Homo sapiens: one gene and its partners. The protein of the gene in region 1 interacts with the protein of each later gene in a pairwise test. Each region holds a gene or a part of one and is shown on either strand. Other genes may lie near its edges.

The links.
Region 2: the proteins of PGAP2 (region 1) and AMIGO1 interact in binary tests that used the Homo sapiens proteins (3 or more experiments, as listed by UniProt).
Region 3: the proteins of PGAP2 (region 1) and ARL13B interact in binary tests that used the Homo sapiens proteins (3 or more experiments, as listed by UniProt).
Region 4: the proteins of PGAP2 (region 1) and F11R interact in binary tests that used the Homo sapiens proteins (3 or more experiments, as listed by UniProt).

The regions. Positions count from the first base shown.
Region 1 is NC_000011.10:3,811,518-3,818,740, reverse strand, and holds part of PGAP2 (acyltransferase PGAP2), read right to left. Parts: exon of another isoform or gene 7,185-7,223; intron 3,557-7,184; exon of another isoform or gene 2,655-3,556; coding exon of another isoform or gene 2,487-2,654; intron 1,437-2,486; coding exon of another isoform or gene 1,389-1,436; coding exon 1,206-1,388; intron 1-1,205.
Region 2 is NC_000001.11:109,506,674-109,513,835, forward strand, and holds the start of AMIGO1 (amphoterin-induced protein 1 precursor), read right to left. Parts: upstream 3,055-7,162; 5' UTR 2,747-3,054; intron 2,327-2,746; 5' UTR 2,240-2,326; coding exon 758-2,239; 3' UTR 1-757. UniProt on the Homo sapiens protein: Promotes growth and fasciculation of neurites from cultured hippocampal neurons. May be involved in fasciculation as well as myelination of developing neural axons. May have a role in regeneration as well as neural plasticity in the adult nervous system.
Region 3 is NC_000003.12:93,976,104-93,983,221, forward strand, and holds the start of ARL13B (ADP-ribosylation factor-like protein 13B), read left to right. Parts: upstream 1-4,051; 5' UTR 4,052-4,320; coding exon 4,321-4,379; intron 4,380-7,118. UniProt on the Homo sapiens protein: Cilium-specific protein required to control the microtubule-based, ciliary axoneme structure. May act by maintaining the association between IFT subcomplexes A and B. Binds GTP but is not able to hydrolyze fit; the GTPase activity remains unclear.
Region 4 is NC_000001.11:161,018,124-161,026,278, forward strand, and holds the start of F11R (junctional adhesion molecule A isoform 1 precursor), read right to left. Parts: upstream 3,030-8,155; 5' UTR 2,951-3,029; coding exon 2,887-2,950; intron 1-2,886. UniProt on the Homo sapiens protein: Seems to play a role in epithelial tight junction formation. Appears early in primordial forms of cell junctions and recruits PARD3.

The DNA of each region.
Region 1 (7,223 bases):
GTCCATATCTAATTCCATGCCCCTAGCACAACAGAACCTTTATCCCTGGGCCCCCAGGAAAGGCCTAGTGGACTGATTGTGGGAGACAGAAGTCCATCCAGGTTTCTGGCTGGCAGATCCCTGAGTGGATACAGGTGGTGGGGCCTGGGGCTGCCAGTAGGAGAAACAAAGCTTGAGGATCCAGATCAGAGCTGAGGATGGATCCTCCAAGGTCAGTCCCCGAGTCTGGGCCAAAGCCACTTGTTACATCTCCCATCTTCTGGCCTCATTTTACCTCCTCAGTCCTGGCTTCCTTTCCAATCTGCCTCCTTCCTCTCATGATCTCTCCTGCCCATTCCAATCCCTTCTCTTCCCCTATCACCTCCCTCTAACCCCCAACTCCCTTGCACTGTTATTGTTTTTTTTTTTTTTTTTGGCACGATCTTGGCTCACTGCAACCTCTGCCTCCCGGGTTCAAGCAATTCTCTTGCCTCAAGCCTCCTGAGTAGCTGGGATTACAGGCACACATCACCATGCCCAGCTAATTTTTTTGTATTTTTTAGTAGAGACAGGGTTTTACCATGTTGGCCAGGCTGGTCTCAAACTCCTGACCTCAGGTGATCCTCCCACCTCGGCCTCTCAAAGTGCTGGGATTACAGGCATGAGCCACAGTGCACAGCCTGCTGTTTTTTTTTTTTTATTTTGTTTTGTTTTTGAGACAGGGTTTTACTCCTGTCACCCAGGCTGGAGTATAATGGTGTGAACTCAGCTCACTGAAATGTCCACCTCCCAGCCTCAAGCAATTCTCCTGCCTTAGCCTCCCAAGTAGCTGGGACTACAGGGGCATGCCAGGGCACCCAGCTAATTTTTTTGCATTTTTTGTACAGACGGGGTTTCACCATGTTGCCCAGGCTGGTCTCGAACTGAACTCGAGTGATCCACTGGCTTCGCCCTCCCGAGGTGCTGAGATTACAGGTATGAGCCACTGCGCCCGTCATCTCCCTTGCATTTCTATCATCATCTTCCAACTCAGGGAGGACTGTGATTCTATTCTCTCTGAGTCTCCCCCCATGAATTATCTCTGACTCTGACTTACCTACCCTTCCCCCATCCCCTTGTCCCTTTCCCTCTCTCTGATCCTCCACTTCCTCTCCACTATCTAATTCTACCCTAACTGCCACCTCCTGACCTGGCCCTGACCCAGGGGCTGGGGAGCTGGCACTCACCCCACAGTCAGTGGCCACCGTGTACTCAAAGTGGAACACCAGGGACCAGATGATGCAGAAGAAGAAGCCGAACACAGGAAAAGTGATGGCCCACCAGACCATGGCTGTGAAGCGAAGCCGGAACAAGGTCCCATCGGGGTCCAAAGGCTGGGAGGCCGCAGAGAACATCCTGCAGGGCGTGGCCTAAGCAGCACGAGGGATACAACTTGGGGCCTGGTAGGACACCTGGGTCTGGGAAAGTGGGGCCTTTTCCAGAGATGGCTCCTCAGAGTATAAGGAAAAGCCAGAGCAGAAAGGGTAGAAAAGGCATAAGGGGAAAAGGAAGACAGTGCAGAGGAGAAGGATCAGAGGGAGATGGGGCAGGAGCAGCAGAGACAGGCAGGGTCAGAGCTTAGGAATCCCCCTGGCACAGTGATACTCTAGGTCCACCTCTTGAAGAGCCTACAGAAGAGAGGCTCCCGGTGGCTTGGACAGGGAGCTCTGGTGGCCCACCTCACTCTCACAACCCTCATAGCCACTCAGGAGAAGGGTCAGAGGTAGAAAGGTTATTATTCCCATTTCACAGAAGGGGAGACTGAGGCCCAGAACTATGCCAGGATCAAACACCAGGACTAAGGCCTCTTGCCACCTGACAGCTTCAGGTTCTAAGTCATGGCTTCTTTCAGGCCAACTAACAAAGGACCGTTGGCTCAGAATGGCCAAAGCCCTCCCACTGACCCTGTCTGACCACATTCCTGTTCCTTACCCAAGTTCAACTAGGAACAGAGGGAGTGCCCCAGAGCCTATTTCAATGGGGCCACAGGCTGCCAGCCATTCCACCCCCAGGCTCTGAATGATCCAAGCCTCAGGCCAGCGGTACCCTGATCCTAAAATACCAGGTCCCTGTGGAAGCCCAGACCTACATCTCCTCCCTCTCTGAGGAGATGCAATGTCACCCAATCCAAGGTTTGGGGGAATCTGAGGGTCATGGAAACCTTCTCCACTGAGCTTGAGCCTGCTGTCCTGGGCCAGACCCAGGAGATCTCTGTCCAGGTCAGACCCAGACCCAGGGAACTGAGCTTCTTCCAATCTCTTCTCCCTCCTGGCCGACAACTCCCCCTCACAACCCCACTGCCCAAACACCTTGACCCCTCAAGCTGGGCTTCCCTCTGGATCAAGCTGAGGCAGACAGAGATGGCTTGATATTAAAAGGCCTAGGACCCAATCTCCCCTCGGCACTCATACTTCCCTCCACTAAGGAGACCCAGGAATGGGGTGGGGGCCTCATGAAGGAACACTCACACTCGGTGCTGAAGAATCCGGGTCTTGGGTTGAAGGTTGTAGCCAGACTGGGACTATTCTAAGACTGGAGGATCCCACCCCCTGCTCCTCAGGGCCTGCCCTCCCGCCCACAGTACCCAATTCTCCACGCCTGCCCAGGCACACATCCTTCCCAGGATCAACAAGCATATGTCATAAATCCTAGAACACTCTGCAAAGGGAAGAAGTGATAGTGGCTGAGGTCAGCTGGCAGTAGCTTCTTTGCCAGTGATGGGGGCAGGGACCTTCCTGAGAGTTGTATCCAGGGTCATAGGCAGGTTTCCAATAAGGGAAAGAGAGAAAGCAAAAAGGGGTCTGGCCGTTTTTTGTTAGAGCAGGACTGAGAGGGCTTGTTGGGCCTCACTGGAGAAATGGCTAAATCCTATGATGACAGAAGCAGGATACAAAAGAGATCTCAACAAGCCTGAATATGAGATATCGATGTTCAGCCTGTACCTGTGCAGAAACAGCTAATAGCAGCTCAGGCTGCCTCAACAGAGGTCTAACAGCCAGGAATAAGAATGAATAGTCCTGCTTTTGCCTGTACTGCCCAGGCCACCTGGAGTTCTATACCCAAATCAAGGCCCAGCAGAGAACAGTGACAAACTGGGCCAAGTTCAACGGTACATTCAGGATAGGGAAGAGCCTGGAAACCATTTCCTTGGAAGGTTGCCTGAAGGAACTGGATTGCCTGAGGTCAGGAGTTCGAGACCAGCCTGGGTAACACAGTGAAACCCCGTCACTACTAAAATACAAAAAGTTAGCCAGTCATGGTGGCGGTGTGCCTGTAATCCCAGCTACTCGGGAGGCTGAGACAGGAGAATCGCTTGAACCTGGGAGGCGGAGGTTGCAGTAAGCCGAGATCGTGCCATTGCACTCCAGCCTGGGTGACAAAGCGAGATTCCATCTCAAGAAAAAAAAAAAAAGAAGAAGACAGACTCAAGGCCCCTCATTACTGTCTTCTTGTCTCTACAGGGCTGACCTGAAGCCACGAGGAGAGAATAGTTCTACGGCAAAGCAGAGCCAGGGCCAAGGCAGAGACTCACCGGAAAGTAAGTACATACTCACTATAAGTAAAAGCTTCAGCCTGGCCAGCATAGTGAAACCCCATCTCTCCTAAAAATACAAAAAATGAGCCAGGCACGGTGGTGCATGCCTGTAATCTCAGCTACTCGGGAGGCTGAGGCATAAGAATGGCTTGAACCCAGGAGGCAGAGGTCGCAGTGAGCCAAGATTGTGCCACTGCACTCCAGCCTGGGCAACAGAGCAAGACCCTGCCTCAAAAAGAAAAGAAAAGAAAGGAAAGGAAAGGGAAAGGGAAAGGGAAAGGGCAAGGGAAAGGGAAAGGGAAGGAAAGGAAGAAAAGAAAGAAAAGAAAGAAAGAAGGAAAGAAAGAAGGAAAAAAAGAAAAAAAGAAAGAAAGAGAAAGAAAGAAAGAAAGAAAGAAAGAAAGAAAGAAAGAAAGAAAGAAAGAAAGAAAGAAAGAAAAGAAGGAAAGAAGGAAAGAAGGAAAGAAAAAGCTTGGGCTAGGCACAGTGGCTCAAGCCTGTAATCCTAGCACTCTGGAAGGCTGAGGCAGGAGGATCACTTGAGCTCAGGAGTTGAAGACCAGCCTGGGCAACATAGTGAGAAACTATCTCTGTTAAAAGAAAAAAAAGAAGAAGAAAGAAAAAAAAAAGAGGCTGGGCATGGTGGCTCACGCCTTTAATCCTAGCACTTTGGGAGGCCAAGGCAGGTGGATCACCTGAGGTCAGGAGTTCGAGACGAGCCTGGCCAACATGACGAAACCCCGTCAATACCAAAAATACAAAAATTAGCCAGGTGTGGTGGCGGGCACCTGTAATCCCAGCTACTCAGGAGGCTGAGGCAGGAGAATTGCTTGAACCCAAGAGGCGGAGGTTGCAGTGAGCTGAGATCACAACACTGCACTCCAGCCTAGGCGACAGAGTGAGACTACATCTAAATAAAAATAAAGAAAGAAAATAAAAGAAAAAGGCTAATTATTAGTTATTAAGCTTCCTTAGAACAGGCTACCTGGGGAGGAAGGAAGCTCCCCATCACTGGGGATATGCGAGCAGAGGCAAAGTAATCAATTACAGATATGATGGACTAGCTTGCTTCTTTTATTCCTAGGGCTGGCCATTTCTGGGATACTCTGAGTGGGAAATTCAGAGCAAATATAAAAATTCCAAGGTGGAACCAACACCGTAGGCTCAGGCAGTGGGGACAACATACCCTCAGGGTCACAGACCTAGTACTGCTCCAGAGGGACCAAGTACTCCAGCAACTATCTATATCTTAATTCCCTAACTGGTATGCCCAGAACAGGTAATAGGTATGCAAGGTATGCAATAACCTAGCTAATAGGGTATTGATGCCATCAGCCCTTGGGGTCAGCCATAAGGGGCAGAGCAAACAGCCTAGTCTGTTTAACTCCATATACTATACAAATATTATAATTTTGCTTGGACTATGATTGACTTATACCATGCCTTCCTTTCCCCAGGGCACTGGGCTAGGGAGTCTTAATCATTTATTCAACCAACACTTTCTGGCCAGGCACAGTGGCTCACGCCTATAATCCCAGTGCTTTGGGAGTCGAGGTGGGAGGATCACTTGAGGTCAGGAGTTCAAGACCAGCCTGGGCAACAGTGTGAGACCCCGTCTCCACACACATACACAAAAATTAGCTGGGCATGGTTGTGCATACCTATTGTCCTAGCTACTCAGGAGGCTGAGGCAGGAGGATTACTTGTGCCCTGGTGGTTGAGGCTGCAGTGAGCTATGATCATGCCACTGCACTCCAGCCTAGGCAACATGGCGAGACCCCATCTCCACAATTTTTTTTTTAATTAAGCTGGGTGTAGTGGCTCACATCTGTAGTCCTAACTACTCAGGAGTCTGAGGTTAGGAAGACTGCTTGATCCCAGGAGTTTGAGGCTGCAGTGAGCTATGATCATGCCACTACACTCTGGCCTGGGTGACGGAAATGAGACCCTGCCTCTAAAACAAATAAAAAAACCCAAATACTTTCTCACTCAAATGCAGTGCCTGCCTTCAAGGAGATCCCCATCTGGTTGGGAAGACAGACACAAATATGATGTGATAGATAACACAGGGAACTGTGGGCACCCAGAGGAGGGAGTGATTACATTAGCCCCAAGGAGGATAGGGAAGACATTTTAGAGCTAGCGGGGCAGGGTTTTGCGGGATGATCAGGAGTGGCTAGCGTAACAGGAATATCTGATGCATTATCTGAGATAATAGGTACTAGGTCATGTACTAGGTCACAAAAGGGTACTCCTTCCCTTCAGATCGCCTGTTCGCCCTTTTCGTCCAGTTCTTTCTAATAGCTCCCAGCCCCAGGTCTCATCAGATTGGGTGTCCATACCTCAACACCCATGTCTACCCACTGACAAATCAGGAGGAGAGGAAACTCCAGTCACATGAAGTAAAGAAGTGGGGCTCCACCCCATACTCACAGCTAGACCCCACTGCTAATCCTAGCCATTTCTCTGAAGCAGATGCTCTTTACATGAAGTGGGGATCCAGCTGGCTGGGGCCTTCAGAACTCTGAGGGACCCCAATGGTCCATGCGCAGAATCTGCCTCTTCTCCACCTAAAGCCCCTAGGTTAAGTTCATTTCCTGCCCTGCCTTCCAACCTGACAGTCTCTTCCTCCTCCTCCTTCTGCTCCTCACATTTCATCATCCTCCCTAAACTACCTTCCTATCCTTCTTCTACCTAGAGCTCTACACTAGCCCTGGGAAGGAGCAGGACAGGAATTATCAACCCTATTTTATTTTTTAGAAATGGGGGTCTCACTATGTCATCAGGCTGAAGTACAGTGAGAAAACCATAGCTCACTCCAGCCTCAGACTTCTAGGCTCAAGCAATCCTCCCACCTCAGGCTCCTGAGGAGCTAGGACTACAGGTGCATACCCCCATGCCCAGCTAATCAATTCTATTTCAGACATGAGGAAACTGAGGCTGGGTCTCTGTCTCAGGTAATATAGAGTCAGTAAATGAATTACAAGTATAACAGAGTTTGACATATGTCCCACCCCACTTACTTTGATATCCTAGAGAAAGTGGTCTTACATCTTTCTTCCTGGCCCCGCACCCCATATCCCTGTCCAGAGGGTACACAGACATCTATGGAATCTTAGAGGCCACGGGACTCACCCCAGGACACATACACACGTACATAATCAGATCTCCATACAGACAGGCACAGATATAGTCTCTCTCACACACGACCCACTCAAACCCATTATATACAGTCATGACCCTCACAATCACACACACATATACTGAGTCACATTCCTACAGAGACAGGCACAAGCCCATAGTGCTACATTAAGAGGCCCAAAATACCCTCTAGCCCAATCCTGTTCTCTCTCCACTTCCCAGAAACCCTGGGGTTCCAGAATCTGCTCTTCTATGAAGTAAGGATTTGGCTCTAGGTCTGCCCTCTGGACAGGGATATGGGGCGCGGGGCCAGGAAGAAAGATGTAAGACCACTTTCTCTAGGATATCAAAGTAAATGGGGTGGGACATGTGTCAAACTCTGTTATACTTGTAATTCATTTACTGACTCTATATTACACTTCAGTGACTCCAGCCTCCAGAACCTCACAGAAGGCAGAGGGAGACTAACCCTTGAGATTTCAATTTGCAGGCATCCCCCCAGCAGCCCCGTATGTTTGATGGGCCCCAG
Region 2 (7,162 bases), on another chromosome or scaffold:
CCTATGCTGTGACATGGACCCTTCAGTTCATGCTATAACCCTCTGTGCCATTGGTCCCAGGACAAGGCACAGATACCACATCCCACATTGCTGTTGTAACTAAAAGGCAGCAGGCCAGGCTCCTGCAAAGATCCATCCACCCAGGGCACATCAGGAAAAAGGAAGGCTTTAATGCAAAGTCTTACAACAGCTTTGGGGAATTGTTACCGATTGAGGTCTCAGCCTTTTCCTGACTCATTTTCCAAAGGTTTTCAACTTCCCCAGCTGTGAAGTTTGACTTGCTAAACAAAGAAGATACTACAGCTTTTCCCCAGTGTGGCTCCTGTGGAAGCTCCCCCAACACACACAACATCACAGGTGTGGGTGGGCAGAGATAGAAAAAATTTTTTTTTCTAAATGTTTTTCTCTTAAGGAGCTAGGGATGACCTCATGAAAGTTTAGGGAATCTGTTCTTCCCCTCACTCCTTCCTCATTCCCATCCAACTCAGACATGCTTCTCTTCCTCTACCACACTGAGAATTGGCAGGGCTTTGGGTACGGGTGTAGCATTTGCCTGAGGATTAATATACCCCCATTTGAAAATCGTGGCAGCCACGCCCTGTTTGGGGTCTTGCTCTCTGTTGTACCTGGGACCAATTCCCTTGAGGTCAGGAGGAATCCATTCCCTTGGGCAGCCAGCCCTCTCTTCCATCCCCTCATATCCTTCAGGGGTGCATTACCTCTCCTGGGGCAGAATCTCCCCACCAACCCATCCTGCTCACACCACAATGGGCGTATCAGAGAAGACCGAGCTGACTGATTCTGGATCCGACATCCTCCGTTGGCCCTTGCCTGTGGCCTCAGGCACTGGCAGGGTGTTGCCTGGCTTGAGCTTGCCGTTTTGACCCTGCCCAGGTCCAGCAGGTTCCAGGAAAGCCACCCGCCGGTCAAAACCATCATCTTTGTCCCCACCAGCCATAGGATCATGGTTGGGTGTGGTACTAAGCATGGAAGAGCTGAGGCTGTCTCCTTGATGGCTGGAAGGCTTCTCTACACCCCGGCACCAGCAGCGGCAAGGGGTGAGGTATAGGTATATGAGGACCAGGACCACACTAAGGATACAGCCCACTAGGGTGGTATAGGCTGTGTTGAGGGTGTCATGGTGTCCGTGCAAGGTGAAATTGTGCACTTTCAATTCCACAGACAGTGTCTCATTGAAAGTCTCTCCCATGGCATAGCAGGTATACACACCACCGTCCTCGACCTGCACCTGCTGGAAAAGAAGACTGCCATCCTTAGACACACTCACTGTGCCATTGGTCACCTCATCTAGCACCCGTTCATTACTTGGTGTCACCCACACCTTGGTCATCCCTTGCTGCTTGGTGTCACACTTGATGATCAAGGTGTCACCCAGGTGGGCCTCCCAGGCACGCTCCTTGTACTCGCCACAGTTGAGGAAACTCAGGTTGAAGACATTGTGCAGCTTCTTGGAGTTCATGCAGTACAGATCCTCTTGAAAGTCCATCACGGAGCTCAGCTGCCGATACTGCCAGTGTGAAAACAGCTGGTAGAGCTCACAGTCGCAGTTCAGGGGGTTGTTATGTAGGTACAGCCCATTCTTGATCCAGGCCGGCAGCTTCTGCAGGTCAGGCAATGGCAAGTTCTTCAGCTTGTTAGAAGAGAGATCCAGGAGCGTTAGTTTGGGTAGCTTGGCTCCTTCCTTGACCAGTTCCAGAGGGAAGCGAGAGATCTGGTTCTGGCTCAAGTAGAGTTTCTGCAGCTGGGCCATGTCATCGAAGGCGCACCGGTCCACCGCCATGATGTGGTTATTGTAGAGCAGCAGCACCTCCAGTACTTGCAGGTCACTGAACAGGAACTCATCCAGTGTACGCAGCTGGTTGGAGGAGAGGTCCAGGTAGCGCAGGTTGGGTACCGGGGAAAAGGCCTCAGAGGAGATGAAGTTCAGGTGGTTGTGGCTCAGCAGCAGGGAGTGCAGTTGGGTCAGGCGCGTGGGGGTCCACTCGGCCCGCAGGCGGCTCAGGTTGTTGTGACTGAGGTCCAGTAGTGCTGTGTAACTGGGCAAGGAATGGGGCACATTGGGCAGCTGCTGCTTGGAGCAGCTGAGGATGTTGCTGGCGCACAAGCAGGCGGCAGGACAGCTAACCACGGCTCGGCCAGCTCTGGCCACCTCAAAAAGCAGCAGGGACAAGGACGGCAGCAGGAGCCAGAGGCCTCTCGGGTCACGGTGGGGGTGCATAGTGTCACTGGAGTGGGCGAGGAAGGCCACAAGGAAGATCTGGGAGGAGGTCACCCGGGCATGTTCTGGTGGGGTACGGAAGGGTCACTTGAGAGAAAGAGGATGGGTTTGTGGTCACCAAGGACTCCAGAGGGAAGGACACCCTCTCCCACTTCCCCTCCCACCCTTACCTCCACCCCCTTTGGGCTAGGAGAGAGAGATGCTGGGTAGTTTCCAGGCACTGTGCAGGCAGTGGGCTGTAAATATCGGCCGAAGAGGAGGTGGCCCGAGGGCCTACTGGGCTGGGGTCACAGGGGTGCAGGCTGCAGGTATGCACAGGATGGCAGGGACTGCTGGGAGTCACAGGGATGGCACGGGCAGGGTTTGGAGGTGGGGTCGGTGTGCCTTTTGGGAGGAGCTGAGGGAAGGTCAACAGGGCACCGGGCTGGGTAGGACGCGTCCGGTCGGGGTTGAGGGTCCCCGGGGCCTGTAGGGGCGGGCTCCCCCCGGGGCCTCCGGTCACTGCACCTGCTCGGCGAGGACGTGTCTCAGCCCATGGCCGGTCTGGGAGCTCCGTCGCGGCCTCTCCCGGCGGCGCCTCACCGGCCGGCCTGTCACTGCGCCCACCTTACGCAGGGGCCCGCGCCCGGCACCGTCGCCTCCCGGGGACTTGCGGGGCCCCGCTCCGCTCACCCTGCCACCGCCTCGACCGCTGAGCCCGCCGGAGCCCACCGACCGCGGTCGCTGCCTCCAGGTCCGCAGGCCTGGCGCGGATCGGTGCGGGGAGCCGGAGGCGCAGCGATCCCAGCGGAGGGAGCGGCGTGGGGGCAGCGAGCACCGCGCGCGCGCCCGTCGCCGCCGCCGGAGCCTCGGGGCGCGTGCGCGCGGCGGGGGCGGGGCGCACGTGCGTGTGTTTGTGTCGGAGCCGGCCGGGCGGACGCGCGCGGGGTCGTTCCCTCAACCAGCGAGCTCCGGACGCTGAGCTAAAGACGAAAATTGGCAGGAAGAGCGGCACTGGCCCCTTAGGCTCCGCTATAACTTCCTCCATCCCCCATTCCCCCATCTCCCAGCACCCTTCTCGCTACACAGACCGGCTCTCAGGAAAAGTCTAACTAAAGTGAATTCGCTGCACCTACTCGGGCAAGAGGCGTCACATGTCTTTTAATTTCGCAAATTGAAGAAATCTGGCTCAGCTCCCGCCTGCCAATGTTGGCGGGAAATTCATTAGTCACATTCTGAGGTTCCCCCTCCCTTCTCTCTGTGGCTGTGGGGTCTCAAAAATTGGGGGAGGGGTTCCCCCCACCCCACCCCCGTCTTGATGCTACTAGTTCATGACCCTTGAGGTACCACTGAAGGGCACAGCTCCTTAGCCTGCAAGCCAGCTGCGCAGGAGTGAGGGGAAAGGGGGTGTTTGGTGAGCCCAGGCCCCAGAACACCCCTTTACAGACACCTCATGCACCTCTCCCCACTCCACCTGCTACACACACACACACACACACACACACACACACACACACACACACGGACTGCATACAAGCCAGGGACAATTTCCATTCCTGGAAACTCCGAAACCCTTCCCAGCCCGGAGGAAGTCATTCAGCCCTTAGGTCTGGCCACTTGCCTTCTTCCTAAACCAGTGCCAGCTCCCCACTCCCCTTATGGAGCAATTGCAACATAGTTTCTCTGTTACCTAATCCTCAAGATGAAGGCCAGTGGTGGAGGTGGAGGGGTTTCTTCTTTAGGGTGGCCCCTGAAACAACAAGAAGCTGTTACTAGTGTATGTTGTTTGGGTTTGGGGGTGAGGAAAGAGAGAGATGCAGGAAGAGCCTAGACCTTATCATTCAAGATGTTAGCTGTTCTTGAGATGGTGGACCATAAGAAATTACCTTTTTATTTGTTCCAGTCTCTTATAACAGCAAGATCAAGACTGAAATTAATGTCTCAGTAGATTAGCTTGCTAAGAGTTTTAAAAAGAATTTATATCTGTCACATGTTTTACCATGAATTTTAGTGAATATATTATCTCTTCAAGGAGTATTAGCGTGTTAATCTTATGCATAGTGTGAAAAGGTCTTTCTGCAAGGTGCAGTGGCTCACACCTGTAATCCCAGCACTTTGGGAGGCTGCGGCAGGAGGATTGCTTGAACCCAGGAGTTCGAGAGCAGCCTGGGCAACATGGTGAGACTCTGTCTCTTAAAAAAAAAAAAGGCATGGTGGCACGCACCTGTGGTGCCCACTACTTGAGAGGCTGAGGTCGGAGGATCACTTGAGCCCTGGAGGTCAAGGCTGCAGTGAGCCATGTTTGTGTCACTGCATTCCAGCCTGGGTGACAGAGCAAGATCCTGTCTCAAAAAAAAAAAAAAAAAAGAAAGAAAGAAAGAAAGAAAGAAAGAAAGAAAGAAAGAAAGAAAGAAAGAAAAAAGAGAAAGATGTTCTGTTCTGTTCATTTCAGGCATCATTGAAAAGATGAGGAGGGTAATCTTTTTGGAGGACAAGGTGTGAAGAATCTTGAAATCACATTGCATCAGTTATCTATTGCTGCATAATCACATTACCCCAAAACTTAGTGACTTCCTACAGCAATATACATTTATTGCCTTTCACAGTGTCTGTTGGTCAGATTCAAGAGCAGTCTGGTGGACAGTTCTGGCTTGGCAGTTTCTCATGCAGTTATGCGTTAGATGGAGCTACAGTCATTAGAAGGCTTCACTGGGGCCATAGAGGCTCACTTAAATTCATGTGGCTGGCTGTTGGCAGGAAACCTCTATTCTTATCCATAAAGGTCTCTCCACAAGACAGCTTGAGTTTCCTCACAACACGGTAGCTGACTTCCCTCAGAGCAAGAGATGCAAGAGACAGCAAGACAGAAGTCACAGTGATCTGGCTCTTTGAAGTGATGGATATCACCTCCACTTTGGTCACATATGCAATTCCTGATTCAATATGGAAGAACTACACAAGGGCACAAATACCAGGAAGAGAGGATCATTGGGACCATCTTGGAGGCTGGCTATCACACACATCATCTCTGAAGTTACATCTATTTTTTAATTTTGAGAATTTTCAAACATACACAAAAGTGAATAGTACAATGAACTCCCATATACCCATCACCCATTTCAATAATTATTAAAGAAATGTCATCATTTTATTTTGTACAAATATTCCTGAGAAACATATGCTCCTCTCACCCCACCCCTCATCTGCATGTTGCATATTTTCTTTTCACCCCAGTGTTGTTCCAGGCTCTCTCCTCTCCCTTTCCTCTTTATTTTTATTTTTTAGACAGAGTTTCGCTGTTGTCACCCAGGCTGCAGTGCCGTGGCATGATCTTGGCTCACTGCAACCTCCGCCTCCTGGGTTCAAGTGGTTCTCCTGCCTCAGCCTCCCAAGTAGCTGGGATTACGGATGCCTGCTACCATGCCCAGCTAATTTTTATATTTTTAGTAATGACAGGGTTTCACCATGTTGGCCAGGCTGGTCTCGAACTCCTGACCTCAGGTAATCTGCCTGCCTCGGCCTCCCAAAGTGCTGGAATTACAGGTGTAAGCCACCATGCCCGGCCTCCCTTTCCTCTTTCTGCTGTGTCCAAGGCGTGGGAGAGAGACAGATAGAAAGAAAAAGGCCCCTTATGATGGATACCAGTTTCAAGAGTGGGTGTCTACAATTTGGAAGGGTCACCACACGATATGTTCTTTAATCAGTCTCTTTTTTCAGCTAATCCATATCCTTTTAAAAGTAATCATTTTGGCTGGGTGCGGTGGCTCACCCCTGTAATTCCAGCCCTTTGGGAGGCTGAGGCAGGCAAATCACATGAAGCAGGAGTTCGAGACCAGCCTGGCCAACATGGCAAAACTCCATCTCTACTAAAAATACAAAAATTAGCTGGGCGTGGTGGTACATGCCTGTAATCCCAGCTACTCGGGTAGCTGAGGCATGAGAATCACTTGAACCTGGGAGGTGGAAGTTGCCGTGAGCTGAGATCATGCCACTGTGCTCCAGCCTGGGTGACAGAGACTCTGTCTCAGAATAAATAAATAAATAAAAATATAAACTAACCATATCCTTTTAAAATGTTAATGTGCAGACAAATCAGCGGGGTATCTTATAATCATGGAGATTCTGAATCACCAGGACTGGGGTGTGGCCTGAGATTCTGCTTTTCCAGCAAACTAACAAGATGATGCCAATGCTTCTTTGAGACCACATTTTAAGTAGCAAGGATCTAGAGTTGTGCTGCCTAATTGGTAGCCAGCAGCATTTGTGGCTACTTAAATTAATTAAAATTAAATATAAATCACTTCTTCAGTTTCCTTAGCCACATTTCAAATGTTTATGGCCATATGTGGCCAGCTACCCTGTTGAACAACGCATTGTCACAGAAAGTTTCATGATGGCACTGGTTTAGATAATTGACTCATAATAACTTTCCCACAGGTGCTCTTTAGACCGGAACAACTATTAATTCACAACAAAAGAAGATCTGGGCAAGATAAATAGCAACAGGTTATTTAGTGAGTATGTATTTCCATTTGCTGGAATGGACCAACTCAATATTCCTAAATGCAATTTGAGAGGTTGTTTGGTTAGCTCAGCACTTGAGCAAAAGCAGCTGGATGTGTCTCCCAGTTTATGAGACTGGATGAATTCCTTTTCTCCACACTACAAGTATTTTTTGCTTTCTTAATAGCTAATACTAGCCATCAGAATCAGAGTGGAGAAGGCTGGTAGCAGTGGCTTATGCCTGTGATCCCAGCACTTTAGCAGGTCAAGGCAGGTGGATCATTTAAGCTCAGGAGTTCAAGACCAGCCTGGGCAACATGGAGAAACCCTGTCTCTACTTAAAATACAAAAATTAACCAGGCATGGTGGCATGCTTCTGTAGTCCCAGCTACTTGGGAGGCTGAAGTGGGAAGATGGCTTGAGCCCAGGAGGCAGAGGTTG
Region 3 (7,118 bases), on another chromosome or scaffold:
ACTTATGGCTACCAAACCACTTAAGATATTCAAAAACTAAGAGTCAGCTTTGCTAAGGGACTGCATGTTGGCACCAGGAATGCTCGGTAATGTTATCACTAGCAGAAATGGGGAAGGCATGAAGTAGAGCAGATGCTTTAATAGTATTGTTTCATTATGACATGGCTGAGAAAAATAAAATCAACTACTGGCCCAGGCCACTGTGTGTATGGAGTTTGCATGTTCTCCCCACGTCTGCATGGGTTTTCTCCAGGTACTCCATTTTCCTCCCACATCTGAAAGATGTGGATGTTAGGTGAATTGGTGTGTTTAAACTGTCCCAGTCTAAGTGAGTGTGGGCATGTATGAGAGCACCCTGTGATGGAATGGTGTCCTGTCAAGGGCTAGTTCTCACCTTTTACCCTGAGATGCCACCTATGATCCTGAACTGGAATAAGTGGACAAATAATTATCTTACTTGTTGTTATTCATCTTTCTTAATGTATAGCTCACATTTATTTCAATGTTTACTATTACTAGTGGTTCCATCTTTATTTTGAAGTTTGGTGATGTTTTTGTGACCAGAAATGTGCCACAGGAACTTAATTGATTTATATCAATTTGTCTGTGGTAAAATTGGTTTTATTGTATGTTATTTTGTTTAAAATTATAGTTTCTAAGAACCTCTGGATGAAGATAAATGAGGATTTACTGCAAAACTGGTGTTGAGTATATATTTGTGAAAAAACAGTCTTGAATATAGTTCTAAAAATGCTCAAGAAACATACACATCATGAGATCCTTCAGTCACAGAAATAATAATCAAATTCCATCAAGACAACATGTTTTAAAAAAGAAAAGCAGAGGGGTAAGGTCATATCTTAGAAGTTACATATAGAAATCCAGAGGAGGAATGGCCTGGGAGATCAGAAGAGAACCAGGGGTTGTGCTCACTTCATCAGCACATATACAACAATTGGAATGATACAGAGAAGATTAGCATGGCCCCTGAACAAGGATGACATGCAAATTCATGAAGCGGTCCATAATAAGTTAAAAAAACAAAGAAGAAGAGAACCAGGGTAGGGTAGTGCAGTGCATAACTGTGAAAGACCAAGGCAGGAAACAGTTTTAGAAAAGTTAACTATATTATATATATATTAAATAATAGAAAAGAAAACCGATTTGGTAATTAGGAAGATATAAGTTATATCAAAAAATATGCTTTCAGTAGTTAGATGGGACAGAAGCCCAATCATAGTAAATGGATCAAAGAGTGAATACAAACAATATAACTTTAGGGTTTGCAAGACACTAGTTTAAGAAAGTGAGTCATGAAAGTAGAGTCAGCAGAAACAGTCCTAAATTGGCTTGGAGTTAATGGAGCATTGCAGTCTTATCCTGCCCTGCTCTCCTGTCTCCCACCATGGATATTTGGAGGTAGGAGGACACATACCATAAGTGTTTATGGGACAGGTGACACCAACTTTAAAATTTGCTATCTATTATTTATCAGAAATTACACTTGAGCTTCATTTCTCTCATTTCATCACCTTAGCAACCTGGAAAAGTAGGTATTTTAATTTCCATGTTATAGATAGGGTTGTTGGAGCTTAGAAGAAAATATCCCAGAATAAAGGCCTCAGAAGCAAAGTTTCTGTCTCTAACCTTCTGTTCCTCGTCTCTTGCCCCTCATTCTCCCACTATGCAAGCCATAGAAACTATAATTCCTCTTTCTCCAGGTGCAGTTATAGAAACCACAACCCCCTTTCCCCAAAGCCAGCCACAAACCCCAAAATATTACTCTAACCTTCTTCCTTTCCATGAAAGACCTGCCCATAAATAAATTCTTTGACTTGCATTGTTTGATAGTACGTCTTAAGACTCCCATTCTAGAAAGGGTCCTACCCCATACCCTGGAAGAAGGAATGCTGAACAATCAGGTCAAGAGGAATCTGAACAGACAGGCCTTGCTGAGTTTCTCCACACAGTCTGCTCTCATTAGGTCATATCCTTTTTGACCAATGAGAGTTCTTCAGGGTTTTTCATTCTTCATCGAACCCAAGTATAAAAATGGGTAGTCTTCCCTGCATCTTTGCATCTCCATTTGCAAGGTTCCCATGTCACATAAAACTTGGATTAAATAAATTTGTTATGCTTTTCTCTTGCTATTCTTTTTGTTATATGAGTGTTGGCTGTGACTGTTATGATGAGAAGAAAAGGTATCACCCCCTTTGTTCCCCATAAGGCACAGTATTTTGGAGATAGCAAGCTGTATGAGATGTATATAAATTTGAATTAAAATTACATGAGGCTGGGTGCCATGGCTCATGTCTATAATCCCAGCACTTTTGGGAGGCCGAGGCAGGCGGATCATTTGAGGCCAGGAGTTTGAGACCAGCCTGGGCAACATGATGAAACCCTGTCTCTACAAAAAATACAAAAATCAGCTGGGCGTGATGGTGCACGTCTCTAGTCCCAGCTACTTGGGAGACTGAGGAAGGAGGATCACTTGACCCCAGGAAGCGGAGGTTGCAGTGAATCGAGATCATGCCACTGTACTCCAACCTGGGTGATAGAGGGAGACTCTGTCTCAAACAAAACAAAACAAAACCAAAAAAAGTTACATGATTTAGTAAAGGACAGAGACTAATTTAAAACCTATATGTATCTTAGTCTCAAATCATTATATTCCCCGCGAATACACTGGGATTCTCAGTGCCTTCTATCCTTTCATCAGGATTTGAAAATATTTATTTAAGTAGAAAATGAATGGACACACAGATCCCTACATATTGTGCATAATTTTTTCCCTACAGGAATGTCCTTGTCATTTCTTTTTCTCCAAAGTATATAAAAGAAATGCAAATATTACATACCTCTTTAAAAAATAAACTATTACAAAACAGTCAAGAGATAACAATCTTCATCTTGCAGATACCAAATAGCCAGCAATTTATGTACCTAAAAATCCTGAAACAAACATACATCAAAATGGTTATTTATTTATTTTTGAGACGGAGTCTTGCTCTGTTGCCCAGACTGGAGTGCAGTGGCGCGATCTCGGCTCACTGCAACCTCCGCCTCCCGGGTTCAAGCAATTCCCCTGCCTCAGTCTCCAGCGTAGCTGGGACTACAGGCGCGTGCCACCACACCCGTTTTTGTTTTTTTTTGTTTTTTTTTTTTTGTATTTTTACTAGAGACGGGGTTTCACCATGTTAGCCAGGATGGTCTAGATCACCTGGCCTCGTGATCCGCCCGCCTCGGCCTCACAAAGTGCTGGGATTACAGGCGTGAGCCACCGCGCCCGGCCCCAAATGGTTATCTTTGAGAGCTCCTGTGAGATCTCATTTTCTTCATCTTGTTTCTTTTTAGTATTTTTCACATTTTCTACAAGAAATGCATTTTTCTTTTGTAATCACAATCCCCCCTACAACAAATATCATACAATTCCGTTTCACATATGTAACAGTAATAAACGTTTTAGAGATTAAGGCTTCACTCTCATCTGAACTACTGAGAAAATTTAGCAAGCGAATTTCCCCCTTGTCTTTAACTTACAAGAATTGCCCCAGTGTATTGTTCCTGTAGTCATGCTGCCTAAGTCGGCCAGAATTCTAGAGGGTCCCCATCCCTGAGCAAAAAACAAACAAACAAAAAACAAGAAAAAAGAAAGAAAGAAAAAGAAAAACCCATGCACAAGACCTGAGATCTCTGAATCTCAGTTGGGGACACTGGAGAAAGGAAAGGAACAGCACCGTGGATTGGCAACACATTTTATGTAGGTATAAAGATAGGCCTTGCTGGAGATTTGTCCCGGATCCTCCAGCTTATCTCCGGACGCTCCGGTTGCCTAGTTACGAGAACGAGCTACCTCGAGCTCCGCCTCCTTCTTATAGAGTACTCCCCTTTCTCTTTTCCTAGTCTCGCGCAGGGGCGGGTAGCCAGGACTCTTCAGCCACTCAGAGGCCTCTACCTCAGGACCTCAACCGATGATTGGGCGAGCGCAGTACGGGCGTTGCCTGGGGAACGCCTTCCGCGCCTCGAAGTAACGTCAGCACGTCGACGCGGGGCTTTTCTTTAGCCGGGTCCCGCTAACTCGGCTACGGTGTATCTGCGTCTTTGGTCAGGTTGTTCCTTGGCTAAGAGGGCAGTCGTCGCGGACCCACGCGGTTAGCAAGGCTTAGTGCTCGGGCCGGCCGCCTTCACTTCCCTCCCGGCTTTTCCTCCCGACTTATCCACTTTAGGGGCGTCTCGGAGTGCCGGAGGCCCCCGGGGAAGAGCGGGGTGCCGGTGTCCGCTCCGGGCTCGGATGGGAAGTGGTGGGAGGAGCGACCCGGGATGTTCAGTCTGATGGCCAGTTGCTGCGGCTGGTTCAAGCGGTGGCGGGAGCCTGTCAGGTAGGCTGGAGCCAGCTGTCCTGGCCGTCCTAGGGGTTGGAGATGGCTGCGCCCCAGGGGCGAGGCGCCGCCTTTTCCCCGCGCCTGGACGAGTCTATCCCAGGCCGCAAGGGATGCTTTCATTCCCAGGGTGTCCCGGGAGGGAGAGATTGGAGGATGTAGCCTTGTTGTCTGGTCGACTTTCTGTTGCGATTGACAATGCTTACCGTTGTTATATTTTAAATAGGTTTGAATTTGTTAAAAAGTGTGTGTGTGTGTGTGTGTGTGTGTGTGTGTGTGGAATTGAAAACTATCCATTGTGTGTTTTTCCTCTGAAGCTTTTGTAATGGAAATTCTTTTAAAAAGAGGGGGACATGGAATATAGTTTTCATAATATCCGCACATTCCATTCCAAGTCACACCTCCACACAGTTGTATTTGAGGACGTGGGCTTGAAATCTGGCTCCACTACTTAATAATTACATGACTCAACCATTTTGGCCCCACCTTTCTTAAATATTAAATGAGAGTGATAATACTCTGCTTTAGAAATATTGTATTCAATGAGAACAAGTGATAGTGTTTTCTTAACTGTAATGTAGCTTCCAATTTTTATACGGTCTCTAGTAAAACCTTTTAATTGAAAGGGTCCACTTTTTAACATTTCATTTTGAAATGCTGGAAGTATTAATAATTAGTACCTGTTACTTGATATTCATTCATTCAAAAAATATTTATTAAGACAATACCTTGTGCCAGGCACTGTCTTAGGAAATAATCAGTGAAATTGATGCTTTTGAAACTGAGGCCTAACCTATAAAGAGATCTTGTGTTTGTTACACAAATAATGTTGACTTCACATAGTTCTAGTCTGGAATTGGGCCAAGGGTAAGATAAAGCAAAGTTGTTTTTTTTTTTAAATTGTTAACATTTTAAGTATATTTGCCATGAGAATGAACTATCCTTTAAAGAATGAATCTGAAAAGCTACACTTACACATTATAACAGAAAATACATGTCTAGATTGGAAAAAAAGTAACTTTAAATGAAACTAGAGATTCTTCCCCATTATTAGCTCCTAACTGAATTTGAATGTTTTAAATATAAGTAGTAAGATCAACTCTGTAAGTCAAAGATGGGCTGGGTGTGGTGGCTCACGCCTGTAATCCCAGCACTTTGGGAGGCCGAAGCTGGCCGATCTTTGGAGCCCTGGAGTTCGAGACCAGCCTGGTCAATATGGCGAAACCCCGTTTCTACAATAAAATAAACGGGCACGGTGACGCACGCCTGTAGTCCAAGCTACTTCGGAGGCTGAATCAGTAGGATCACTTGAGCCTGGGAGGCGGAGGTTGCAGTGAGCCGATATCGCTGCACTCCCTGAGTGACACAGTGCAACCCTGTCTCAAAAAAAAAAAAAAAAAAAAAAAAGAAAAAAGTCAAAGAGTTGTTTTAGGTGCATAGATTCTGATTTATTTGCTTTAATTATATTCTGGTCTAATTTCACAGTATCTACTAAGACTTGAGGGTCATTCATAATAGTTGACCCCTCATTTTCCTCCGTGTCTGCTTTTAAGAAATGTATTTGGTTTCTGTGAAGGCATGTATATAACTTACGTTCTTTTAACGAGAAACAGTGAAAACGTGTAATTCGAAGAAGGAGTGTTCAATTTAATTCATCATTCTTAGTCTTTCCTTTTCTTAGCAGCTTTTGTATATATACTCTCTGGAATGATTTGTTTAAAGAGAAGAGTTCAGAGAAAGGAGAATGTATTGATTTCCAAGTAGAACAGATAATTGAATTTTCTTAATAAAGCATTATTAAAATTTAGCTGCATAACCCAGAGTGTATTTTCTTCTTTAATAAGCACCATCTAGATTTGTCCTGTCCAGTAGGGTAACAACGAGCTACACGTGGCTGTTGAGCACTTGAAATGTGGCTAGTCTGAATTAAGATGCTGTAAGTGTATGTTTAATACATAGTGGGCTTTGAAAAAAGATTTATTATGCAAAAAAGTCAGCATCTTATCAGTCTTTTAAAAGTATGATTACATGTTGAAATGATAACTTTTGCATATGCTAGGTTAAATAATATATTAGAATTAACTTTTTTTTACTTTTTAAAAAATGAGATTACTAGAGAATTTCAATGTATATGTTGCTTATGTTAACATTTCTGTTGGATCTTACTGCTCTGGATCATAGCCTAATATAAAGGACATAGGTAAACATCTCAATTTGGATAACTGTCAAAGAATTTGAACACAAGTTGGATTACCCCTGTCTTCTAAGTCCCCTTGTTCAATGCCTGATTTATAATAGTGGCTGAATAAATATTTGCCAAATATTGTATGTAGTTCGATTTTTCTTAGTAATAATCATCCTGAAGTAAATAACATTAGCAAGTAGTTCCATTTATTTTACTGGAATAAATGAGAGGTGAGCAAGCTAATTTTAAAAACAAAATTTTGTGCTTTTATGGTGTTCTCTATTTTTTCAACAGAAATTGCCTGTTTGATTATTATGTATATATTTGTTTTCTGTAGAATTTCTTATTAAGATTCCTCTTCATGTTTATATTTTATGAAGATGAAATGTGAGGAGTGAATTTGTAAAAGAGATGATGATGGTTATTAATATACTATATTTGAGATTACTTTGCAGATTTGTTTAATACATTCTGTACCCCAGTACCCATTGTATTTGTTCACCTCTCCTCACTTAGATCCTTTCCTAGTGAGCATATTATTCCAGACATTGGAA
Region 4 (8,155 bases), on another chromosome or scaffold:
GGGAAAGGGAGGCTAGTACTCTGGGTCATCAGTTTTACTTTTCCCAAGTCCAGCTCTCCCAGTGTCTACCCTCTGGATCTCTGCCCCACAGGGTCAGGGTTTCCCCTCCATTAGGTTCCCCAAGCTGGGGCCAGGCCTTTGCCTGACTTGTCAGTCCTATCTTGCCTTTTCTACTTCCTCCCTGACAGCAGAGCCCACAATGAAGAACAGGGAGAACATATGGGCAACCTATCCACGCCTCTCAGGGACAGTGGACAAGCTAGACACCCAAGAAAAAGCTCCTGCTTTTTGATTTCTGACTCTAGCCATTTGGGATCTCCCTGCTTCCTTTTTTACCTACTCAGCTAGGGACAGCATTCTGGCATTCTTCCATCCTCACAAAATCCACAGGGGATAACAGCTGCCCAAAAATAATCCCTTCATGTATATGTAATGTAACTATTATGCTGGTTGATCCTCCTGACAAAGGTGGGACAAGTATTACTGCTATTTTACAGATGAAAAGACTGAGCTACTGCCTAAGATCACAAACAAGGCAGAGAGAAAGCCAAGCTAGAATGCAGGTATGGTGGCCCAGCTCCCATTTCCATCCTCATTTGCACTAACCAAATCACTCCCCTCCCCCAACCCAACCCCAGATCTAGCCTGATTTAAAAGTTACAAGGTCAGTTCCTCCATCCCCTGGACAAGTCACTTCCCAGGACCCACTGTCCTAACAGGCTAATGCGACATCATCTCAGGTTCCCTCTGCACTACTGTGGCTTGGTTCCCTGAAGACACCTCCAAGCTCAAAATGGTGTTATCATGACCTTCCAGTGCCAGTATATGATTATTTTAGGATTATCATAAATAATATAGGAAATTAGAGGGAGAAAAAAGAAAGGAAGCAGTGGCAAAGGATAGGGAGTAAGCAGCTCCAGGAAGCTTTTAAGCCTGACAAATACTGTCACAGACAAACACTGTTACAAATACAGTCACTCACACAGAAGAAACTTCTGGGCTTAGGGGAAAAATACTGGCACAGTACAAAGGTTGGAAAAACCTTTAGTACCAGAACCACATAACCAAAAATTGACTATGGGTGTCACTAGCAGTTCTAAAATACAGGCAGAAGTAAAATAGGCAAGGGGTAGGGAAAAAAGGGAAATTAAAGAAAAGGGAACTCAAAGAGTAGAAAAAAAGGAAGACATGGCCAGCCGCGGTGGCTCACACCTGTAATCCCAGCACGTTGGGAGGCCGAGGCGGGTGGATCACCTGAGAGCAGGAATTCAAGACCAGCCCGACCAACATGGTGAAACCCCATCTCTACTAAAAACAAAAAATTAGCCGGGCGTGATGGTGCATGCCTGTAATTCCAGCTACTCGGGAGGCTGAGGCAGGAGAATCGCTTAAACCCGGAAGGCGGAGGTTGCGGTGGGCCAAGATGGCACCATTGCACTCGAGCCTGGGCAACAAGCGAAACTCTAACTCAAAAAAAAAAAAAAAAAAAGAGGGAGACATGAATGAAGAAGCTAGTGGGAAAGTAAGTTTAAAGGTAAGTAAGACAGTAGATTCTGAAGCAGTATCCCAAACAGTTCTTGTGCTATAGGGTGCCTGAGATGCTGGATCAAAGAATGGAAAAAGGAAAAGCAAGTCAAGAGGGTTTGGTTCCATTCCCAGGTTCCACCCCTAACTCTATTGTCATTGAAGTCATTTCCCCTTTTGGACTTGTTTCCTTATCAGTAAAATAGAAAGAGGATGATATATGCCTCTGGTCCAATCTCTCCCAAGGGTTTATGTTGTGATAAGGTAGAAATGAGCAGTCAATCCATCTAAGGGCAGGGAATCTACATACACCAAACTGATTGTAATCATTCATTTAACACTTTCTAAAACAAGAACCTTGGGGGTGGGGGGAGACTCATGTAGAACACATACTGACACAACTACTCACACAACGACACGCACACTCAAGAATCAGATAAACACACAGGTACTGCCACAGGTTGACTAACGCACAAACCAACCGACTAAACGCTCAGCCCCACACAAACACATCTAGAGACAGAGGCATGCCCTAGCAAGTGAGCCTCATTGTTCCTCAGGAAAGGGAGTTTACAAAGGAAACAAAAACTCTCATACACAGCCAGAGGGAGGGCAGAGCTCTGGCTCTGATGAGAATCCAGCCAACCAACAGATACACTCTCCCCCTGGGAAGAGTCACTCAATCAACAACACGTATTAAGGACTCCTGAGGTAGTTATTCCATAAAGGAACTTCGCTGGAACCTCTGCTGCGCTTAGAGAAATTTCAGGTTTCTATTGCATTTCCTCTTTAGACTGTGCACCCAGACATTTTCCCAGAGCAACCGCCGCAATTCAAAGATTCAGAAGAGCCAGAGACTCCTTCAGCAAAAGCTAGGGGAAGAGACTTCCACCCCAGACCACCTCCATTTGATTTTCTTCGAAGACCGTTAAAGGAGCCAAGGCTCCCGGCTGCGCAGCGGGGTTCGTGGATGCTGGGTGGCCGTTGGAGGGGCAGGCTGGCCCTTCCCAGGTGCGTGTGGAGCGCGCGCTGGGTAGATGAGTGTGGAAGGGTCCTTGGCCCGACGGCCCTCTCCAGTGAGGACGAGGAGTGTACCTCTGGTGTGTGCAGATGGGTCAGCTCCCTCCTGGTGGCCGTGAGGGGTGCGGTCACAACTCACCAGTGTGGGGGAGGGGAGCCAGCCACTCACCCAGCTGTGAGAGTGGTGAAAGAGGGACCAGCCAGGGGTGGAAAAGATAATTCGCAGAACGATATAGGAAGGTTTCTGAGCTCCTCCCCTCCCGCGGGCTAGGGGCGTGGGGAGAGCCTTCCTCCAACCTCTGACCCGACCAACCGATTCCTCCCGAAACTCTGGGAACTTACACAACAGGATCGCCAATATGAAGAGGCACAACAGTTTCCTCTCGACTTGCGCCTTTGTCCCCATCGCGATCAGGCTCCCGACACAACAGCCGCCGAAGGACTCCTGGGAACAGACACAGCTCCGCGACTACAGCGAGGGGACTGAGAGCCAGCCGCCAGGTGGAACCCCGCCCGGCCCCGCCCTCCGCGCCTGATTGGCCAGCTCCCCACCCCTGCACGTTCCGATTGGTGTAAGGAACCGCTGCTCTTCAGAACGAGTCACCTCGGCCAGGTGTTACCCCGCCGCCACTCCCCGCCTCGGCGCACTGGCGCCTTTCCCCACAGGAGCTGCCTCAGATTGGCCCAGGAGACTGTCGCGTCAGGAGACGAATTCCGCACCTTCAGCAGGTGACGGCCCCCTGATTGGTTGGTGTTCCCGAAGTAGCGACTTCCTGACTGGCTGGGTTCTCAGTTGGAGCTAGAGGGCTGAGAAGTACCTCTAAGGAGGAAGTAGGAAAGGCAGTCGTGGTGTGGGATTTACGGAGACCGGCTTGGCTTGGGGTTTTGTGTTTGTTTGAATGTAAGTTGCTTGGTGCAACTGCACCTGCAGTTTGGTCCTGCAGAAACTTTGGTCCTGCCTCTTGGCAAGTAAAAAACAAATATTAATATGGGAGGGTAGGGGAGAAGACCCGGAGAGAAATGGAATGTTACTTTGGCACCACCTCCAAACTGTTCCTCTGTCCACCCCACCGGCTTTGAGAGATGAGCTACGCTGGGAGGAAGAAAGGGGAAAAAAAAGGGAAAGGGAGCACTCAACTGGAAAATGGGAGCCTGGGCAGTATAGTCCCAGCTACTTGGGAGGCTGAGGTGGGAGGATGGCTTGAGCCCGGAGGCGGAGGTTGCAGTGAGCCTAGATCGCGCCACTGAACTACAGCCTGGGCGACAGAGCCAGACCCTGTCTCAAAAAACAAACAACAACAACAAAAATTTAAAAACCCACAACAACACAACTTGGGAAGAGCAGAATTACGTTATCTCAAGAAGAAAGTTAAACAGATGTACACAAAACACACCCAGATGATACAAACTGAGCTGAACATGCTCTAGAAACATCTCTGGGTGACTGGATATGTCCTTTACACATATTTGATCTGTGAACAGGTCCCTACATTTCAGAATTGTTTGTTTTCTCACTGTGACTAATAGTTGTGTGCTGACTAAGCCACCTTTTTTCTATAGACAATGTTGATACTCAAACTTTCTGTTAATATTTATATTGCTACATCATTTTTAATTGAAATTCATGCTCAACACCTTTGCTAGTTGTAGTTTCTATTTTACGATGATTTAATTTTAACTGTACTAAGCATATGCAGACTGTGGGGAAAAAACTTCCTTAGCATTACCTCATTGCAAGGGAAAAGACCACATTTTTATCCAAAAGAATGATATTGTTTGACATTTTGCCTTTTTCACCTTTGCTCTCATTCCTTTGTCCCCATCTCTTTGGCCAAAGTTCTGCTTCTGGTTCCATTCAATTTAAACCACCTACTGGGTGCTTAATAGTCTTGGCCGGGTGCGTGGCACACGCCTATAATCCCAGCACTTTGGGAGGCCGAGGTGGGTGGATCACCTGAGGTCAGTCTGACTAACGTGGTGAAACCCTGTCTCTACTAAATACAAAAAAAATTAGCCGGGCGTGGTGGCACATGCCTGTAATCTGAGCTACTTGGGAGGCTGAGACAGGAAAATCGCTTGTACCTGGGAGGAGGAGGTTGCAGTGAGCTGAAATCGCGCCATTGCACTCCAGCCTGCTGGGCATCAAGAGCGAAACTCCGTCTCAAAAAAAAAAGAAAAGAAAAGAAAGAAATTTAAAGTCTTGGAGAAAGGTATATACACTGACAGCTGGGCTCTGTGACGTGTGCCTGTAATCCCAGCTACTCAGGAGGCTGAGGCAGGAGGGGAGGATCACTTAAGGCCAGGAGTTTGAAACCAACCAGGGCAACATAGGGAAAAGACTCTGTGTCTAAGAAATTTTATTTATTTATTTATTTTTGAGACGGAGTCTTGCTCTGTCGCCCAGGCTGTAGTGCAGTGGCGCGATCTCTGCTCACTGCAAGCTCCGCCTCCCGGGTTCACGCCATTCTCCTGCCTCAGCCTCCGGAGTAGCTGGGACTACAGGCGCCCGCCACCATGCCTGGCTAATTTTTTTTTGTATTTTTAGTAAGACGGGATTTCACCGTGTTAGCCAGGATGGTCTCAATCTCCTGACCTTGTGATCCGCCCGCCTCGGCCTCCCAAAGTGCTGGGATTACAGGCGTGAGCCACCGCGCCCAGCCTATTTATTTATTTTTATTTTTATTTATTTATTTGTTTTTTGAGACGGAGTTTCACTCTTGTTGCCCAGGCTGGAGTGCAATGGCGCGATCTCGGCTCACCGCAACCTCCGCCTCCCGAGTTCAAGCGATTCTCCTGCCTCAGCCTCCCTAGTAGCTGGGATTACAGGCATGTGCCACCACGCCTGCTAATTTTGTATTTTTAGTAGAGACGGGGTTTCTCCATATTGGTCAGGCTGGTCTCAAACTCCCGACCTCAGGTGATCCGCCCACCTCGGCCTCCCAAAGTGCTGGGGTTACAGGCATGAGCCACCGTGCCCGGCCTTTATTTATTTATTTTATTTTTGAAACAGGGTCTTGCTCTGTTGCCCAGGCTAGAGTGCAGTGGTGCAATCATGGCTCACTGCAACCTCCACCTCCTGGGCTCAAGCAATCCTCCCACCTCAGTCTCCTGAGTAGATGGGACCACAGGCGTTGCCACATCCTGCTAATTTTTTCTTTCTTTCTTTCTTTTCCTTCCTTCCTTTCTTCCTTCCTTCCTCTCTCTCTCTCTTTTCTTTGTTTTTGTTGTTTTGTTCTGTATACACGATGTCTTGCTATGTAGCCCAGGCTAGTCTTGAACTCCTGAGCTCAAGTGATCCTCCCACCTCAGCCTTCCAAAGTGCTGGGATTATAGGCGTGAACCACCATGCCCCGCCAGAAAATTAAATTTAAAATTTTTTTTAATAAAAAATTAGCTGGGTATGGTGGTGTAACCTGTAATCCTGTACTCCGGAGGCTGAGACAAGAGAATCACTTGTGCCCAGGAATTCGAACCTGCAGTAAGCTATGATTGCACCACTGCACTCCTGCCTGGGCAAAGGAACAAGAAAGATCCTGCCTCTTAAAAATATAAAAATAAATAAAAATAAATTTAAAAAGCATGCATTCACAAATATAATAATAGCCATGTTACACTATTGAGTTATATTCAATTTACAGCATACTAAAATGGGTAAGCCCTTTATTTTCACTTGAACTACTGTTAAATTGGGTCTCCCACATCCTATACTTATGCATTTTTTTTTTCAGATGGAGTATTGCTCTTGTTGCCCAGGCTGGAGTGCAATGGCGCGATCTTGGCTCACTGCAACCTCCGCCTCCCAGGTTCAACCGATTCTCTTGCCTCAGCCTCCCAAGTAGCTGGGATTATAGGCCACCACGCCTGGCTAATTTTGTATTTTTAGTACGCGGGGTTTTTCCATGTTGGTCAGGCTGGTCTCGAACTCCCGACCTCAGGTGATCCGCCCAACTCGGCCTCCCAAAGTGTTGGGATTACAGGTGTAAGCCACTGCGCCCAGCCGCATTTCTTTCTTAACCAAAGTACATTTTGCATTGATCTCTATTCAATTTTATATTTTCTGTTTTGAAAATATTAATAATGGACAAGTATACATGAAATATTGTTAATAACTAAAATGAAAAAAGTAAATACAAACAGTGTGCACCTCAGTTATTACTATATAAAACATCTGCATATACAGTTACAAAGCATGAAGGTATTTTAGAGCATGCAAGTAATTTGATGTTCATCAGATTCTTTTTCCCATAAAGTTGCTTAAATGTATAATAAATGTTAAAATTTCATTGTCATTGACATTTGTTTTCCATAGTCCTTCAAAACAGATTTGTAAACTACAGACTGATTAGTTTGTCTGTAAAGTAGAAAATTATGGAAGGAATTATTCAACAGCCCCACGCACACACAAAAAAATAGACTGTGACTATAGACAGTTCAATTGAAATTCTGCAGAGAAGGCCAGCAGAGAAAAGGAGCAACAGCTGTAAGGGATGTTGAATAAACGCAGAGTAGGTATTTTGTTTAGATGGAAATACTTGTGTGCTAATAGCAATGATCCAGTAAAGAGCAAGAAATTAATCGTGTGGAAAAGAGAGGCCAGGCACAGTGGCTCATGCCTACAATCCCAGCACTTTGGGAGGCCAAGGCAGGAGTATTGCTTGAGCCCAGGAGTTCCAGACCGGCCTGGGGAACAGAGAGAGACAAAAAATAAAAAATAAAAAAAAATTAAAAAATTAGCCGGGCATGGCAGTGCCTGTGGTTCCAGCTACTCCAGAGGTTGAGGTGGGAGGATCCTTTGAGCCTGGGAGGTGGAGGCTGCAGTGAGCCATGCTCATGCCACTGCATTCCAGCCTGGGTGACAAAGCAAGACCTTCTCTCAAAAAGGGGGTGGGGGAAGAACAGTTATGGTATCAAGTAATAGAGGAGAGAAGAGATGGCATCCTGAGCTCAAGTTGAGGGTTAAAAGAAAGCAGAGAAAACTAGCCACCACAACGAGAGAAGCATGTGGTACAGCTTGTAGATTTGTTGGTGAGAAGATAATGGCAATTTCTTTGATTTCTTCAGAGGTAAACTCATTAGCTTAGAGTGCAGAGGAAAAAGGAAGTTTAGGAAATCTAGAGAGTAGGGAGAAGTGGAGACTGAAAAGGTACACACTAGTGACTGGGCTCAGTGGCTCACACCTATAATCCCAGCATTTTGGGAGGCCAGGCCAGGCGGATCACTTGAATTCAAGACCGGCCTGACCAACAAGGCAAAACCCTGTCTCTACTAAAAATATAAAAATTAGCTGGGCGTGGTAGCTCACGCCTGTAATCTCAGCTACTCGGGAGGCTGAGGCACAAGAATCACTTGAACCCAGGAGACAGAGGTTACAGTAAGCAGAGATAGCACCACTACACTCCAGCCTGGGTTACAGAGTGACACTCTGTCTCATAAAAAAAGGATACACACTAGAGAAGGGTGTTAGAAGCTGGGCGTGGTGGCTCACATCTGTAATCCCAGCACTTTGGGAGGCCAAGGCAGGTGAATCACGTCAGGAGTTCGAGACCAGCCTGGCCAATATGGTAAAACCCCCGTCTCTACTAAAAATACAAAAATTAGCCAGTCGTAGTGG